2 separate regions of the Homo sapiens genome follow, and region 1 is linked to region 2. The links come from fine-mapping of genetic effects on gene expression. Tissue or cell type: whole blood. Region 2 holds a variant in brackets; the other region holds the start of a gene. All regions are shown on one strand. Distances are from middle to middle.

Evidence for each region. PIP is the estimated chance that this variant, and not a neighbour inherited with it, causes the effect.
Region 1: it holds the start of RAP2C, and the variant in region 2 is fine-mapped to the expression of RAP2C in whole blood (TOPMed, PIP above 0.99). The same link has a PIP of 0.9 or more in atrial appendage, breast, gastroesophageal junction, left ventricle, lung and pancreas.

The regions. Positions count from the first base shown.
Region 1 is chrX:132,218,434-132,221,121 of GRCh38, forward strand. RAP2C (RAP2C, member of RAS oncogene family) reads right to left here and starts at 1,014. Exons shown (of 6, transcript NM_001271186.2): 1 at 937-1,014. It overlaps RAP2C-AS1 (RAP2C antisense RNA 1), which reads left to right and starts at 74. Exons shown (of 3, transcript NR_110410.1): 1 at 74-404. RefSeq lists enhancers at 936-1,005, 1,336-1,385.
Region 2 is chrX:132,557,284-132,559,971 of GRCh38, forward strand. No RefSeq gene overlaps it. Among named protein-coding and RNA genes, the nearest start is that of MBNL3, 70 kb to the left of the region's middle. The variant C/T (reference allele first, on the strand shown) is at 1,026.

The DNA.
Region 1 (2,688 bases), 340 kb before region 2:
CCGGCCCTAGGACTTGAGCGGCTCCCTGGCCGGTGCGGAACCTGCGGGCTAATAATCTAGCGACCGGGAGAACGCCAAACATCCCTGGACTAGAAGTTGCAGGGGAAATCAAACAGCCCAGAAAGTTTATTCTCCTTGCTGGTATTTCTTCCACTTGCTATTTTGCTGAGAGATGCATGCAAACTACCCTTAGACTTTCAGATGCAGTGCGTTTTACTTAGCCGTGCCTGACAAACACACAGAACTTTTACCGTCTGGTAGATCCGCCTTGACTTTACCAGCGAATACTAAAGTCACTTAAAAAAAAATCACAAGGCTCGAAAACAGCAGCATTAGAAGTAGACTTTATGGTACTCTGCTCAGCTATGTTCTCATTTGATTCCAACCACTACACGGCAGAAAAGGTAACCAATATTCAAGAAAGATTTGATTGGAAACGGTTTAGGCCTAAAGACTAATTTATTTTAATCGTTGATTATGTATAACAATTTGCTTGGCTGGCTCTTACATGCTGAAGTTTTGTTTTAAAGGCCATCCTATGTAGTCTTTGAAATTCAAAAGCAAGTAGTAACTCTGGTGTTAGATTCTAAGTTTCTATTTTTAGATAAAATTGTTACTTCCGACTATCTTTCCCTTTGCTAGCTTTCTATTTGTAAACTTTGTGTCGGATCCACAGAGCCCCAGGGCCAGGAGTCTAGGCTGTATTTTAGGTGTGTCACTTTCTTTTCAATTCAAGCATGTACCCAGAAACCTGCGAGACTCAGTGGCCAGCCTAGCAAAAATGACTCCAAATTCCCTTACTTACAAGCCCTAAATGGCCAAACTCTATAAAGAGATTTATTACTCAGCCTAAATTGTTGGACATTAGAACACAGGCGAATCATAGTAGTGTGAGGTCCCACTGTCCCTCCCTGAGTATTCCCCAATGTCACTTACAGTCTTCAAAGGAGAGTTTAGTTCAATTTCTCCTTGACCTCAGGCCGGTGCCATCTCTCCAGCGAAGTCCCCAGCTCTGGCTCCAGCTGGCCTGGGCCCTGTGTCGTATCAGAGGCACTGCCCTCTGCTGGAAGGGGTTTGGTCTGTGAGTTATGAGTTTCCCCACAGGTCACTGCTCCTTTCACACGTGCTGTTGCCTGATTTGGAGCTCTGCTGCTCATCTCCCTGCCTAGCTGTCTCCAGACTGTCTGGTGGGATTCACAGCCCTCCACCAGCCGTGCTTGTAACTGAGTCTGGAAATTCCTCTTCTGATCCAGCCAGTGTTGAGCAATCGTGGCAAGTCTTTGCTCTATTACTAAACTGTCAAAGCAAGGAGTTCTTTTTCAGGTCATCCCACCTGTTGGCAATTCTAATATCTCTGAATGTGTTGGTCATGCTTAGGAGAGAGTTCTTTGTTTCTCCACGCAGTGAAACATACTCCTCCCCTCAGTACAGCGTCCTGTGGGGTCACTCTCGTCAACTACAGTGGACAAATATTACACTCAGTCTAAAGATCCTTCTAAACTTTCTTAGGAAGGGTATTCATTACAGCATTGATTAGGAAATCAAACAATTGGAAGAAGCTTAAATGTCCTTCAGTAGGTGATTTTTAAAAGTTTCATAGCTCTCTATATCTATTATCTATCATCTATCTATCTATCTACCAACCTACCTACCTACCTATCTGTATTCACAGAATAGGATATTATGCAGCTACTTTAAAAGAGAAAAGCAGATTTGTAAGTGTTTATATAAAAAGATGGCCAAGATATATTGTAGGGCTGAAAAAGCAAGATACTGAACAAATGTCTAGTTGCTACTGTTTATGTAAAACGCAGGTGTGTAATAGTTACATAGCCATTCAAATCTGAAACAAAGTAATTATGGGTGAGGACTATTATGAAATGGCTTTTATTTCTCCATATTTTAATTTATAAACAATAATTGGGAAAAAGGAAGTAAATATAACTTTATAATATTTTTAAAGGAGGAACAAAAGAAAGTTGTTGATCTTGGTTTTGTAAAAAAAAAAAAAAAAAATCCTGACTGTCTAGGGGTCAGTGGACAGGTCCGCCCAATTTAAACAAATTCCCTACCCTTGCTTGCCCTCCCCAAACATCTCTATACTTAGAAAAGTATTTTCACATACATTATCTCATTAGACTCCTGTTGTTTGCTAGTGTACTCTCATTAAGCAATGAGGGTATAAAGAGCAAGCAGAAGAGTGCGGCCTGGCAGTTGAGAGCTAAGGCTCTGAAATGAGACAGAGGTGCATTAAAATTGCAGCTCCGCCACATTCTAGCTCTGTGTCCCCAAGCAAGTGATTTCACTTGTCTGAGCCTCTAACTCCTCACTTGTAAAAAGGAGATAAGAAGTTAACGTGAAAATGTAATGAGGTATTACAGGTAAAGTGCTTAGCACAGTCCCTTGCACATTATAAAGCCTCAATAAATGCTATTTGGTTTTTATTTAAAAGATTTAATGAATTGTTAATTTTTAAAAAATAGCAAACATGGGGGTAACAAAATTTTAAAAGCTCAAATATCTGCAAGTGGCACGAAAATAATAATTCAGTTACTCTTCACAAAGATATTTATTGTTAAAAGCTTCTTATGTTTTTCAGGGGGGAACATTATTCATATGTCAGTGTATCAATCTACCTTCTATATATATTTTTAAAAATTACTGTACTACAAAAGTAATCAACTGTAC
Region 2 (2,688 bases):
AAAAATAGTGGGGGCATGTCACAAGGACAGAAGAACCAGTTTGGAGGAGCTCCCATTGGCCAAATCTCAGACAATTTCAGTATTAAAATAATAAAGTAATAATTATAAATACATTTAGAAAAATGTAGAAAATCATAAGCTCATATCAATAAAAAATAAATAACCGTGGAGAAGTGCTTGCTTATAGTAAAATGCTGAATGCTGACTAGTAAGTGTGGAGGAAGTGCTATAGTTAAAAAGTCAGTATTTTGTAAGCATCAAAATAAAGATTGGATAAAATAAAAATCAGTAGATATTAAATCTAAGTAGAAATGTTGATGAAGAGGATGTTTAGATGGAATTAAAGCAATCTCACAGGCTGCTTATTAGTTGCAAGTGGAAAGACAGTACTTATGCAATGGAGAATTTGGACAATTATTTGACCAGGCGATCAAAATTAGCATCACGAATGAGGAGCACATACACCGCATGTGTCTTCAGATGTGATTCCTTGAGAAGATCAATACCGTATAACCTACCCTGAGAAAGCACAGCTTGTATCTAATCACGAAGAAATATCAGATAAACCCCCCAAAAGGGACATTGAAAATATCAACATCATGAAAAAGAAGAAACTTTATGGAATGTTTCAGAATAAAAGAGGTTAAAAAAACATGACAACTAAATGTAATACTTGACCCCAGGCTAAATTCTGTACTGGAGGGAAAAATGCCACAAAGGACATTATTAGGCCAACTATAAAAGGTATGATATGAATATACAGACAGTAGATTAGAAAAAACTAGTATATCAATGTAAACTTATGAAGTTGATAACTTCCACAAAGAAGTTATTCTTACAAAGTGTACACCTGAAGTATTTACAGGTAAAGACACATGATATATGCAATTTACCTCAAATAGTTCAGAAAAAGGGTTCAGAAAAATGCTCTAGTCCTAGCTACTCTGGACACTGAGGCAGGAGGATCCCTCGAGCCCAGGAGTTCCAGGCTGCAGTGAGCCATGATCGTGCAACTGCACTTCACC[C/T]TGGATGACAGAGGGAGACCTTGTTTCTAAAAATAAATAAAATAATTCAGAAAAACAGTTCTCAAGTAGTTCAGAAAAAGAGGAGATGAAAGAGAGATGGATGGGAGAGAAGTAACTGATGAAGCAAATGAATTAAATGATAGCAAGAAGTGAGGCTAGGTAAAGGTTATACAGGTGTACCTTACACTATTCTTATTTTTGCAACATTTCTGCACATTTTTAATGGTTTCCAAATAAAAAGGTAAAAAACTTTAAGGAGTAAGATATTTCTTTGCTACAATGCCAAAAGCACAATCCATAACATATTGATAAATTGGACTTCATCGAACATAAAAACTGCTTTTGAAAGACACTGTGAAGAGAATGAAAAGACAAGCGCTAGGCTAGGGGAAAAACATTTGCAAGTCATCTAAAACACTTGCATCCAAATAAAAGACTTATATCCAGAATATATAAAGAACTCATAAAACTAAATAATAAAACAAAAAGAAACAATAAAAATGGCGAAAGTATTTGAACGAGCTATGTCACCAAAAAAGGTATATACTCGGAAAATAAGCACATGAAAAATGACCAATCTCATTGGTCATTAGGACAATGCAAATTAAAACCACAATAAGATATCAATTCAAACCTACTGGGACGGTTCAAATTAAAAGACTGACCATATCAATTGTTGATGAGAATGTGGGAGAACTGGAACTCTTATGTACTGTCAGTTGGGATTTAAAAAGGTACCACTATTTTGGAAAATGTTTTGACAGTTACTTTTAAAGTCAAATCTGCACTTATCATATGACTTAATCATTACACTTCTAGGTATTTACCCAAGAGAAGTCAAAGCACATTTCCACACAAACCCTTCTACAAGAATGTTCACCACTCTGGGCAATATGGCTAGACTCCATCTCTACAATTTTTTTTTAATTTGAAAAATAAAATCAGCCAAGCATGGTGGCATGTGCCTGCAGTCCTAGCTACTCAAGAGGTCAAGGTGGGAGGATCCTTTGAGCCCAGGAGTTCAAGGCTGCTGTGAGTCATGATCATGCCACTGTACTCCAGCCTGTGCGACAAAGCAAGACCTTATCTCAAAAAAAAAAAAAGAATGTTCATAGCAGCTTTATTTTTATATCCAAAATCAAGAAACAACCCAAACCTCCACCGTGAGTAAATGGATAAACAAGTTTAGTGGAAGATTACTCAGCAACAAAAAGAAGTAGCTATTGATACATGCTGCAATTTAGATAATCTCAAATAAAAATGTATGCCAAGTGAAAGAAGTAGACAAATGAACGTACACACTGCATGGTTCAATTTATATAAAATTCTTTTTTTACTTTTATTTTAGGTTCAAGGGTACATGTGCAGTTTGCTATATAGGTAAATTTGTGTCATGAGTGTTTGTTGTACAGATTATTTTGTCACCCAGGTACTAAGCCTAGTACCCAGTAATTTTTTATGCTCTTCTCCATCCTCCCACCCGCCACCCTCAAGTAGGCCACAGTGTCTGTTCTTCCCTTCTTTGTGTCCATGAGTTCTCATCACTTAGCTCCCACTTATAAGTGAGAACATGCAGTATTTGGTTTTCTGTTCTTGCATTAGTTTGCTAAGGATAATGACCTCCAGCTCCATCCATGTTCCTGCAAAAGACGTGATCTCATTC